Linked DNA regions of Homo sapiens: region 1 is linked to region 2. Evidence: fine-mapped expression QTL. A gene starts in region 2. The other region holds a variant in brackets. All regions are shown on one strand. Distances are from middle to middle. Region 1 has its middle 3.1 kb from the start of PSME4. Region 2 holds the start of ACYP2 (acylphosphatase 2).

Evidence for each region. PIP is the estimated chance that this variant, and not a neighbour inherited with it, causes the effect.
Region 1: its variant is fine-mapped to the expression of ACYP2 in monocytes after LPS (Fairfax 2014, PIP 0.92).

The regions. Positions count from the first base shown.
Region 1 is chr2:53,971,403-53,976,710 of GRCh38, forward strand. It overlaps a transcript of ACYP2 not described here. Among named protein-coding and RNA genes, the nearest start is that of PSME4, 3.1 kb to the left of the region's middle. RefSeq lists an enhancer at 60-109. The variant C/T (reference allele first, on the strand shown) is at 2,596.
Region 2 is chr2:54,112,427-54,117,808 of GRCh38, forward strand. ACYP2 (acylphosphatase 2) reads left to right here and starts at 3,189. Exons shown (of 4, transcript NM_138448.4): 1 at 3,189-3,330. The coding sequence starts at 3,273. RefSeq lists silencers at 3,018-3,087, 3,578-3,637.

The sequences.
Region 1 (5,308 bases), 140 kb before region 2:
CTTATAGATTTATTTACTCCATCCCGCTTGTTCCTTATAGATTTAATTTTTCTGTCCCCTTTAAGTCCCCATCTTTCTGGTATTCTGGCCGCCATCATTCCAAAGAAGAAAATAGTTACTCGCTGAACAAATGCTATTTGAACAGCTGTTTTGTGTGTAAGGCGCTCAGTTTAGGCTATTGAGATAGAAAGTTTAACCTGGTTTCCGCCCTCCCAAGGACTTAGTCTAGCAGAGATAAAGACGTGAATTACAAGATAATGCTCTTAATTGCTAGATAAGTACAAGAATCCTTAGGAACTCTACAAAGAAGTTGAAACTAGGGGGTTTGAGAGGGTGTCATTTTCCTAGAAGTGATACTTAATTTAAGCTATGAAGGTTGAGTGCAAAGTTGGTTAGAAAAAGGAGGGAGGAGGACACGTATTTCAGCTGAGAGAACAGCTTTGACGCTGCAAGCATGTATTCTAAAAATTCAAAGTTCAAAATAGCGTAAGAGAGGGGACGGAGAAATGAGACTGAGAAGGCAATCCTAAGGAATTCAGAGCTTTATCCTAGAGACAAACTTCCAAAAGATTTTAAGCATAGCAGTGGGATGATATAATTTACATTTTTTAAGAATTACTCTGGCGGCCGGGCGCAGTGGCTCACGCCTGTAATCCCAGCACTTTGGGAGGCCGAGGCGGGCGGATCACGAGGTCAGGAGTTCGAGACCAGTCTGGCCAACATGGTGAAACCCCGTCTCTACTAAAAATACAAAAAAGTTAGCCGGGCGTGGTGGCGGACGCCTGTAATCCCAGCTACTCGGGAGGCTGAGGCAGGAGAATCGCTTGAAACCGGAAGGCGGAGGTTGCAGTGAGCCAAGATCGCGCCAGGGCACTCCAGCCTGGGCAACAAGAGCGAAACTCCGTCTCAAAAAATAAAAGGGCCAGGCGCGTGGTGGCTCACGCCTGTAATCCCAGCACTTTGGGAGGCCGAGGCGGGTGGATCACGGGGTCAGGAGATGGAGACCATCCTGGCTAACATGGTGAAACCCCGTCTCTACTAAAAATACAAAAAAATTAGCCGGGCATGGTGGCGGGCGCCTGTAGTCCCAGCTACTCGGGAGGCTGAGGCAGGAGAATGGCGTGAATCCGGGAGATGGAGCTTGCAGTGAGCCGAGATCGTGCCACAGCACTCCAGCCTGGGTGGCAGAGCGAGACTCCGTCTCAAAAAAAAAAAAGAGTCACTCTGGCTTCGTCTGGAAAATGGGTTGGAACTGACAAGATTGGGAACTGGAGGACCCTTTAAGGTGTGACATAATCATGGCCTGGATGTCAGTTGAAATTGAGAGCTACTTCAGCAGAATGGCTTGGGCTTAGTAGTTGACTGAAAGTGAAAAATTAAAAAGGAAAGAGACAAGACGACGCTGGGTAGATAGGTGAAGTCCTTCACTGAGATAAAGAACACAGCAGAAACAGCTTGGGAGGCAGAATGCCTATGGGATGGGTATGTTGACATATGTATCAGGAGGGTGATCTAAACTGAGATGCAGATTAGCGTGTAGATGGACGACAGGAGGGAAGGAAATATACAGTATGAAAAAATAGGGCCCTTCACAAATCTCTGAGGAGCCCCACATTTAAGGACAGACAGAGAAAAGGAAGGTAGGCCACAAAGAATATTCACAAAAAGCAGAGAGAGGAGGAGTTCTAGGAAACTGGGTGTCTCATGGAGAAGCGAACAATCCTACCTTAGGTAGCTAACAGGTCAAATGAAGTGAAACCTGAAAGGGTTTATTGGATAGTTTATTGATAAAGCGCATAAGAACAGTGTCGTTGGAGTGTAGAATAGAAATCTGATTATGGTGACAAAGGACAAATGGGAAGTGAATAAATAGAGGCAGCAAATATGGACAACCTTTTAAAAAATAATGGGGTAGGGAGAGCCGGAAAGAGATGAGTGTCAGGCCTCTGAGCCCAAGCTAAGCCATCATATCCCCAGTGACCTGCATGTATACATCCAGATGGCCTGAAGCAACTGAAGATCCACAAAAAAAGTGAAAATAGCCTTAACTGATAACATTTCACCATTGTGATTTGTTTCTGCCCCACCCTAACAGATGAATGTACTTTGTAATCTCCCCCACCCTTAGGAAGTTTCTTTATAATCTCCCCAACCCTTAAGAAGGTTCTTTGTATTTCTCCCCACCCTTGAGAATGTACTTTGTGAGATCCACCCCCTGCCCCCAAAACATTGCACTTAACTCCACCACCTATTCCAAAACCTATAAGAACTAATGGTAATCCCAACACCCTTTGCTGACTCCTTTTTCAGACTCAGCCTGCCTGCACCCAGGTGAAATAAACAGCCATGTTGCTCACACAAAGCCTGTTTGGTGGTCTCTTCCCACGGACGCGCGAGACAATGAGGAGGTACTTGGAATAAAAGGAGGGATTTTTGAATGTGGGATATATATATGTGTGTGTGTGTGTGTGTGTGTGTGTGTGTGTGTGTGTGTGTGTGTATATATTTTTTTTTTTTTTTTTTTTTTTGAGTCTCACTCTGTAGCCCAGTCTGGAGTGCAATGGATCCATCTCGGCTCACTGCAATCTCCGCCTC[C/T]GGGGTTCAAGTGATTCTTCTGCCTCAGCGCCTCGAGTAGCTGGGACCACAGGTGCGCACCACCACATCCAGATAATTTTTTTTTTTTCGGTATTTTTAGTAGAGACAGGCTTTCACCATATTGGCCAGGCTGGTCTCGAACTCCTGACCTCGTGATCCGCCCGCCTTGGACTCCCAAAGTGTTGGGATTACAGGCTTGAGCCACTGAGCCCGGCCATATTTAGATATATTTAAATATGGATGAAAAGGAGCCAGTGGAGAGAGAAGTTAAAGATATTGGGTGAGGACGACAAAGAGCGGAAGAGAATGTGGAGTCATTGACCTTTAGAAGCAAATCAAACTGTGCTTCCATTGTCAGAGGAGGAAAGCAGGGAAGGAAGCATAGGTGCAGATGCTGGAATGTTTGGTACTGGAAGTTGGAGAAGTTCTTTCTATAGTTTCTATTTTTTCCTATGAAACAAGACAATGAGAATTATAGGGAAGTGGTAGGTAGATTTGAGGAAATTGAAGAAGCCTTAGAGTAGTCTCAGAATTCAGAAAATTGATTTAAAAAGTTAGAATTGTTTGGCAGGTAAGGCTGGAAGCTTGAATTTACTATTATCTATCTGCACAATTTAATGATTTTTTCCCTAATACTGTTTAGTGGCCCAGGATTGTGTGACATACAGTATATACTAGTGACATACTAGTATAATAGAATGACAAAAGATCAAGATAATGTTTTTTATGTTGCCAGTAGTGATGGTAGTGTTAGCTATCATTCATTGAGCATTTCTGTCTGCCAGTGCTTTACCTACATTATCTCACTGAATTCTCTAGAGATAATTGAGTTGAGAATATTTGAAAGAGAGTGGTTAAAGTCTAAGTTTGGTTGACGTGTAAGTGAAGAGAGTAGAGAGCTAATAGGGAAGGAGAAGAGAGATGTCAAGACACTTACATGCTGATGAGCTATAAGGGAAAGATGAAAGGATTCGCCTGAGCAAGGGATCTAGAAGAATAGAAATGTTTGGATTTAAGATTTCGAAGAGACCAGCCTGGCCAATATGGTGACACCCCGTCTCTACTAAAAATACAAAAATTAGCCTGGCATGGTGGCGTGCGCCTGTAGTCCCAGCAACTCAGGAGGCTGAGGCAGAAGAATTGCTTGAACCCGGGAGGCAGAGGTTGCAGTGAGCTGAGATCACACCACTGCATTCCAACCTGGCGACAGAGCGAGACTCTGTCTCAAAAAAAAAAAAAAAAATTCAGAGAAGCAGTTCCAGATGACAATGAGCTCCCTAGAAACAAACATCTGAACTGGAAAAGTTGAAGAATTTACGGGAGCAAGCAAAATAAGGTCTCTTCCTCTTATTCTAAATAAAGTTTCATGGAGAACACTATTGAAATGCTTCCCAGTGAGAAAGTTAGAAGACCTTTCTTTCGGGGAGCTGGTCTGCTCATTAGTGGAGACAGTAACCCAAAGTCTGGGGTGGATTTTCTCTTCTCAGTCCAACTTGTTATCTCTTGAAGGTCAGGAGACACTGCCAAAGGATAACAGCACGTTATCCTTTTGAGGCTGGGCTGGGTGGCTCACGCCTGCAATCCCAGCACTTTGGAGAGACAAGGCAGGCGGATCACAAGGTCAGGAGATCAAGAGCATCCTGGCTACCACACTGAAACCCCGTCTCTACTAAAAATACAAAAAATTAGCTGGGTGTGGTGGCATGCACCTGTAGTCCCAGCTACTTGGGAGGCTGAGGCAGGAGAATCGCTTAAACCCGGGAGGCAGAGGTTGCAGTGAGCCAAGATCGCGCCACTGCACTCCAGCCTGGGTGACAGAGCGAGACTCTCAAACAAACAAACAAAAAAAACAGGATGTTATCCTTTTAACCAGACCTGGAGGGAGACACTGACTTCTTATCAGACCCTCAAGGAAACAGACTATAATCACTCTTCTTGCAAGACCCAGAAAATGCAGTGGCCCTTCAAAGAAAATATTCTAAAGAGAGAGGTTCCTTCTCCAGCTGGAGGGATTAGCAGAGACAATTTTCAATCAAATATTTATGTCTTTGATGTGCTTATTGGAACACTAATTAATCACTTATTAGCAGTGAACAAAAAATGACAGGTTATTAGTGTCACATCTTGCCCATCTTAGTTTTCTCTGTATATATGATATACTTGGGGCTAGAGATATATTGGCAAGTGAATGAATCTCTGTTGCCAGAAACATAATCTTTTTTTTCTTTTTTAGTCAGGGTTTCACTCTCTTACAGGCTGGAGTACAATGGCACAATCACAGCTCACTGCAGCCTCCACCTCCTGGGCTCAAGTGATTCTCCCACTTTGGCCTCCCAAGTAGCTGGGACTACAGGTGCATGCTACCATGTCCGGCTAATTTTTAATTTCTTGTAGAGATAGAGTCTCAATGTGTTGCCCGGGCAGGTCTTGAACTCCTGGACTCAAGCAATCTGCCCGCCTCAGCCTCCCAAAGTGCTGGGATTACAGGGGTTAGCCACCACACCTGGCCAGAAACGTAATCTTTAGAAGTATTTGAATTAGAATGATTCATTGCAATGTAATTAAATATCCAGACTTCTGCTGAATTGCAGTTATTAGAGGAACAAGAATATTAGATCTGGTCTGAAGATTTGGGAGGAAAAAAAGAATATTAGATCTGAGAAATGTTGAGTTTTTTCTAGTTCCTGTAGGATTTTTAAGTTTTGAATTTTTC
Region 2 (5,382 bases):
GCCCTTCGAAAAACAGTTTGGCAATATATATCAAGAACAATACATGCTTATACCCTTGATTTGATATTCCAACTTCAATTAAAAATATGTGGGAAGGAAGCTACATGCATAAATATTTTCTTTTTTATGGTAGTGAAAAATGAGAAGCAGCCTGAATATGTAACAACAGGGACTCACAGTAGGTAAATGTGTGGTTTATCCACCTAATGTGATTTATTAAAATATTCATTGGAAAGACTACAACATGGAAAAGAAGAATAAAAGTTGCATTCATACTATAATTACTTAAAACATATATTAGAAACATTTGCGTACATTTTCTAAAGACTTAGAATCACATATTATTGGCAATCCATGCCGAAATGGTACATAAAAATTTCCGTTTGCTAATGTTAGACTGCTGGCAGACACAGCAAATTTTTCAGCTAAGCAAATGTCAATTGTTGCTATAGCACTTCTAAAATTCAAATAAACCTACCTAATAATTGGCAGGGGTACTCTTGGGTAAATGTGGAGAAAAGTCAAAGATTAAGAAAAGGAAAATGTCAACCTTCCCAGTCAGTGACTACTTAGAAGCTATGCTATAGTTGTCCGTTGTTATCTGCAGGGGATTGGTTCCAGGAATCCCCTTGGATATAAAAATCCTGGAATGTTCAAGTTCCTAATAGAAACATACATACACATATTGTCCTGTATGTTTTAAGTCATCTCTAGATTATTTAAAATACCTAATGCGATGTAAATGCTATTATACTGTATTGTTCAGGGAATGATGACAAGAAACAAGAGTCTGCATGAGTTCAGTAGAGATGACTTTTTTTTTTTTTTTTGGAGACAGGGTCTCGCTCTGTCACCCAGGCTGGAGTGCAGTGGCCCCATCTCGGTTCACTGCAACCTCTGCCTCCTGGGCAAAAGTGATCCTACTCCCACCTCAGCCTCCCAAGTAGCTGGGACTACAGGCACAGGCCACCACAGCCAGGTAATTTTTGTATTTTTTATAGAGGCGGGGCTTCACTGTATTGTCCAGGCTGGTCATCTCTAACTCCTGGGCTCAAGCTGTTCGCCAGCCTTGGCCTCCCAACATGTTGGGATTACAGGTGTGAGCCACCGTGCAGGCCAAGATACTTAAAAAAAAAAATTCTGTTTGAGGTTGGTTGAATCTATGGATGCAGAACCTGCTAATATGGATGGCTGACTGTACTAGTGGGGAAGGCACACTAAATAACTAGGATAAAATCTGGTAACCACTCGCAGAGATGACTGAGCGGGATAGAGGAAGATTTTGGAGAAGGGGGAGGCATTCCAGATAGAGTAGACCCAAGAGAAGAGGTTCTTTGTTTTAAACCTCTGTACTGAGAGAGCAGAATAACCGAGAGTGTCTTGACTATAGTTTAAATGCAGGATTTGCATAAGCAGGTAGTGGAGGCTGAAGACCTTAGGTTCTATTTTGAACGTATTAAGAAGAATGATTTAAAATTTATGTTGATTCTAGAGTCTGCATGGAATGAACTGGGAGATGGAAGAGTTAAGTTACGAGGTCTCTGCAATAAACTAAGACCTTCACTACATAAATTAACTGCACTAGCATTTCCAGAATATATTTTACTTTAAAAATGATTTAACCATATTCTAACCAAGTTTTGGATGATTTTTGGTGTTCTCTAATAGAATTGGCACAGTATATTGAATCAGATTGCAGTGGATTATTTTAACTGTGTGGCCAGATGCAGAGAAATATGCCAAGGTATTGAGGCCAACAAATAGAGAAATGCAAATTCTCACAAGTAAACAGATTTGGAATTCTAGAAGGTGGCAGATTATCAATAGCTGTATCCAGATCCTTTGGAGTGGTGGATGGTTTTATATTAAAACTTGGTAATAGCTCACCAGGAAATAAAATTCAGCCTTAACCTTCTAGGCAATTGGGATGTTGCTGAGAATAATCAAGACAATCAAAAAAAAAAAAAAAAAAAAAGGTCGGGTGTGGTGGCTCACACCTGTAATCCCAGCACTTTGGGAGGCCGAGGCAGGTGGATCACCTGAGGTCAGGAGTTTGAGACTAGCCTGGACAACATGGTGAAACCCCGTCTCCACTAAAAATACAAAAATTAGCTGGGTGAGGTGGCGCATGCCTGTAATCCCAGCTACTTGGAAGGCTGAGGCAGGACAATTTCTTGAACCTGGGAGGTGGAGGCTGCTGTGAGCTGAGATTGCACTACTGCACTCCAGTCTGGGAGACAAGAGCGAAACTCCGTCTCAAAACAACAGCAACAAACCCACACCAAAAAAACTGTATGAACAGCAGACAAGATGACTACAGTGTTTTTCTTTTGTCTGTTTCCACTAGCATAAAAGACTTCATATTTTTAAAAAGTTTCTTATCCCAGAAAATATCACAATCCGTTTAGAATACGAGTTCAGGCTCAATTCCTTCCTGACTGTACAGAAGAGCTCAAGATGTTGCAGACCTTATCTTAAAAGCTGGCTTGGTAGTCACCTAAACATTTCATAAATAATTTACTAACTCTCAAAACACTAAACACGCAGGCCCTTGATTTCAAAAGCCAATCTTGCTGGGATGGAGTGGGGTGGGGGACCTGGGATGGGGGATGAAAGGGGTTGGAAATGGGGAGATATTGGTCAAAGGGTACAAAGTTTCAGTTAGTGTGAATAATAAGTTCTGAAGATCTGTTGTCTAACATGGTGACTGCGATAAATGTATTGTGTCCTTAAAAATTGATGAGAGTAGATCTTAAATGTTCTCTTCATTAAAAAATGGTGCAATGGATACGTTAATTTCATTGATGTAATCATTTCACAATGCATACATATGTCAAAACATCACCTTGTACACCACAAATATACCCAACTTTTATTTGTCAATTACACTTTAATAAAGCTGGGGGAAGCCACTCTTTTTTTGGGCACAGCATCCGGCTTTTATTTACTAACTTTGAGAACAGAGTACCTTGATCAATTAAATGGTAGGGAGCGCTGTGGAGACAGCATCCTCCCCAGTCCGGGAAGAGAGGCCTAGGATGCCTGGGGCCCAGCGGCCTCTTCCCTCCTGGCGTCCCCGGCTGCCCTCGCTCCCAGGCCCCGCAGTCTCATTTGCCGCTTCCGACGCGTGACCCCGGCGCGCTAGCGTCCGGGACCGGTGACAGGCGCGGGGTGCGCCAAGCAGTCCCATGTGTCCCCTCCCTCTCGCAGCCGCCGCAGTCGCTGCGCCCCGAGCCCCTCTCCGGCTCCTCAACAGAGGGCTCGCCGCCGCCATGTCTACCGCCCAGTCACTCAAATCCGTGGACTACGAGGTGTTCGGAAGAGTGCAGGGTAGGAGGCCCCTCTACGGTGGGAGATCAAAAAGGTTATGGGAGGAAGGGGAGAAAGCTGTGAGAAGCGCCTCCCACCTAAAGTATGCCTTTTCCCGTTGTGGCTGGGACTTCCGCTCCGCCATGACACAGCAGCGGCGGCGGGGAGGGAGGCGAAACGCGCATGCGCCCGAGGACTTGGACGGGCGGAAGTACGGGAATGGGGAGGGAAGTGGGGGAGCGGGAGAGGAGGGGTCAGGGGACTGCTGAGGACCAGAAGTGGGCGGCTGCTGGGTGCGGGAGTAAGCGGCACGGGGGAATGTTGAAGTTGGGTAGGAAAAGAAGAGGGTCTTTTAACTAGTGGTCTCGTTGCTTGCCACTGAAGCTACCTGGGCTTGACTTGAGTTTTAGGAAGGACACTTAGATGGTTTAAGGTTAATTTTTCAGAGGTCAAACCTTTTTTTAGACCTCTTTGTAGCTCTTAAAAGAATGAAATTGTTATCTAATTTTTGTTTCATCCTAAGTTTAAGTAGTTGCCAAGTTTGTAATGTCTGGCTTGTTGAAAATATTGATATTTATAAATGAAAATATTAAGTCACTCTGAGATTTATGCAATGGAATATAAATAGGGTAGTGATTTAACATCCACCATCTTCATTTAAAATAAAACTCTTCAACAATGGGAAATTTTACTCATTTCTTTTCCTCTTTGAATTTGATTTTCATTTCACTTTTCCCACCGAATTACCCCATTGTTTTGCTTGAGGGTTTTTTTTTTTTTTTTGCTCACCCTATCATACTTTTCTGCAATATGTATATGTACATATATGCACATGTATGAATAAGTGTAATGCTTTTTCTTAATTTCCTTTGACAATAAGGCTCTCTTAGAAACAAATGCTGGTTCTTTGGTGCCAAAAAGAAGAACTAGCGCTCAAAGAATTTTCTCAGCAAGGCAATTTTACCTCTATAGAAGGGTGCGACTCGCGGATGAAGCAATGGCAACGGCACACCTGAACAGGGGAGGGGAAGGGGTTCTTATTCCTGATGCAGGTAGCCTCTACTGCTGTGTCTTTCCCCTACTGGCTAGGGTTGGACCGCACAGTCTAAGCTAATTCCGACTGGCTATTTTAAAGAGCAGGCGTACGAGCTCAAGTGGCGGGGTGAATAATTTGGCAGGAAGGGTGGTTACAGAACAGGTGACTCAGGATGATTCAGGTCAGAGCAGGTGACCAGGGGTGACTCAGGATGGAGCAGGTGACCAGAGGAATAGAGGTGAACTACTGATTAGAACTGGTGGAAAAGGTTGTTTACTGAAACTAGAGGCGAGGAGAACGAGGAAGCTAGACTTTAGAGCGCAAAGAACCGAGCATACTGACATACTGATTCTTTGAAGAGAAATTTAGAACTCATTGTATTCAACAGCTCCAAGTATTAAATTTTTTGTCTGGATGGAGTTATTATTGAAATTATTATTAGAACACTAGATGAAAATATAAAAAGTATGATAAACATTATTAAAATTTAAAGGTAAATTTGTGTTAGAAGTTTATTTTTTTAATTTTATTTTTTTAAGAGATGGAGTCTTGCTCTGTCACCCAGACTGGAGCAAGTGCAATGGCACAATCATAGCTCACTGCAGCCTGGAACTCCTGGGCTCAAGTGATCTTCTGCCTCAGCCTTCTAAGCAGCTGGGACTACAGGCTCATGCCACCATGCATGACTAATTTTTAAAATTTTTTTGTAGAGAAAGGGTCTCTGTTGCCCAGGCAAGTCTCGAAATCCTGGCTTCAAGGGATCCTCCTGCACTTCGCCTCCCAAAGTGATGGGATTACAGGCGTGAGCCACTGCACTCAGCCAGAAATTTATTAATGAGAAGACTGGGGGTGTTTATGGAACCTCGGTTGGTGGAAGAGTTGAATTATCCTTGTATTTGGTACTCTAGAGGTTTTTACACTTTGGTGCAGTGTACCAGGGTAAGATTAAGAATGGGTAAAAGTGTGCCTTTTGTAAAGAGATCTTTTTTTAATTTAATTTTATTTTTATTTCCTATAGGTCTTTGGAGAACAGGTGG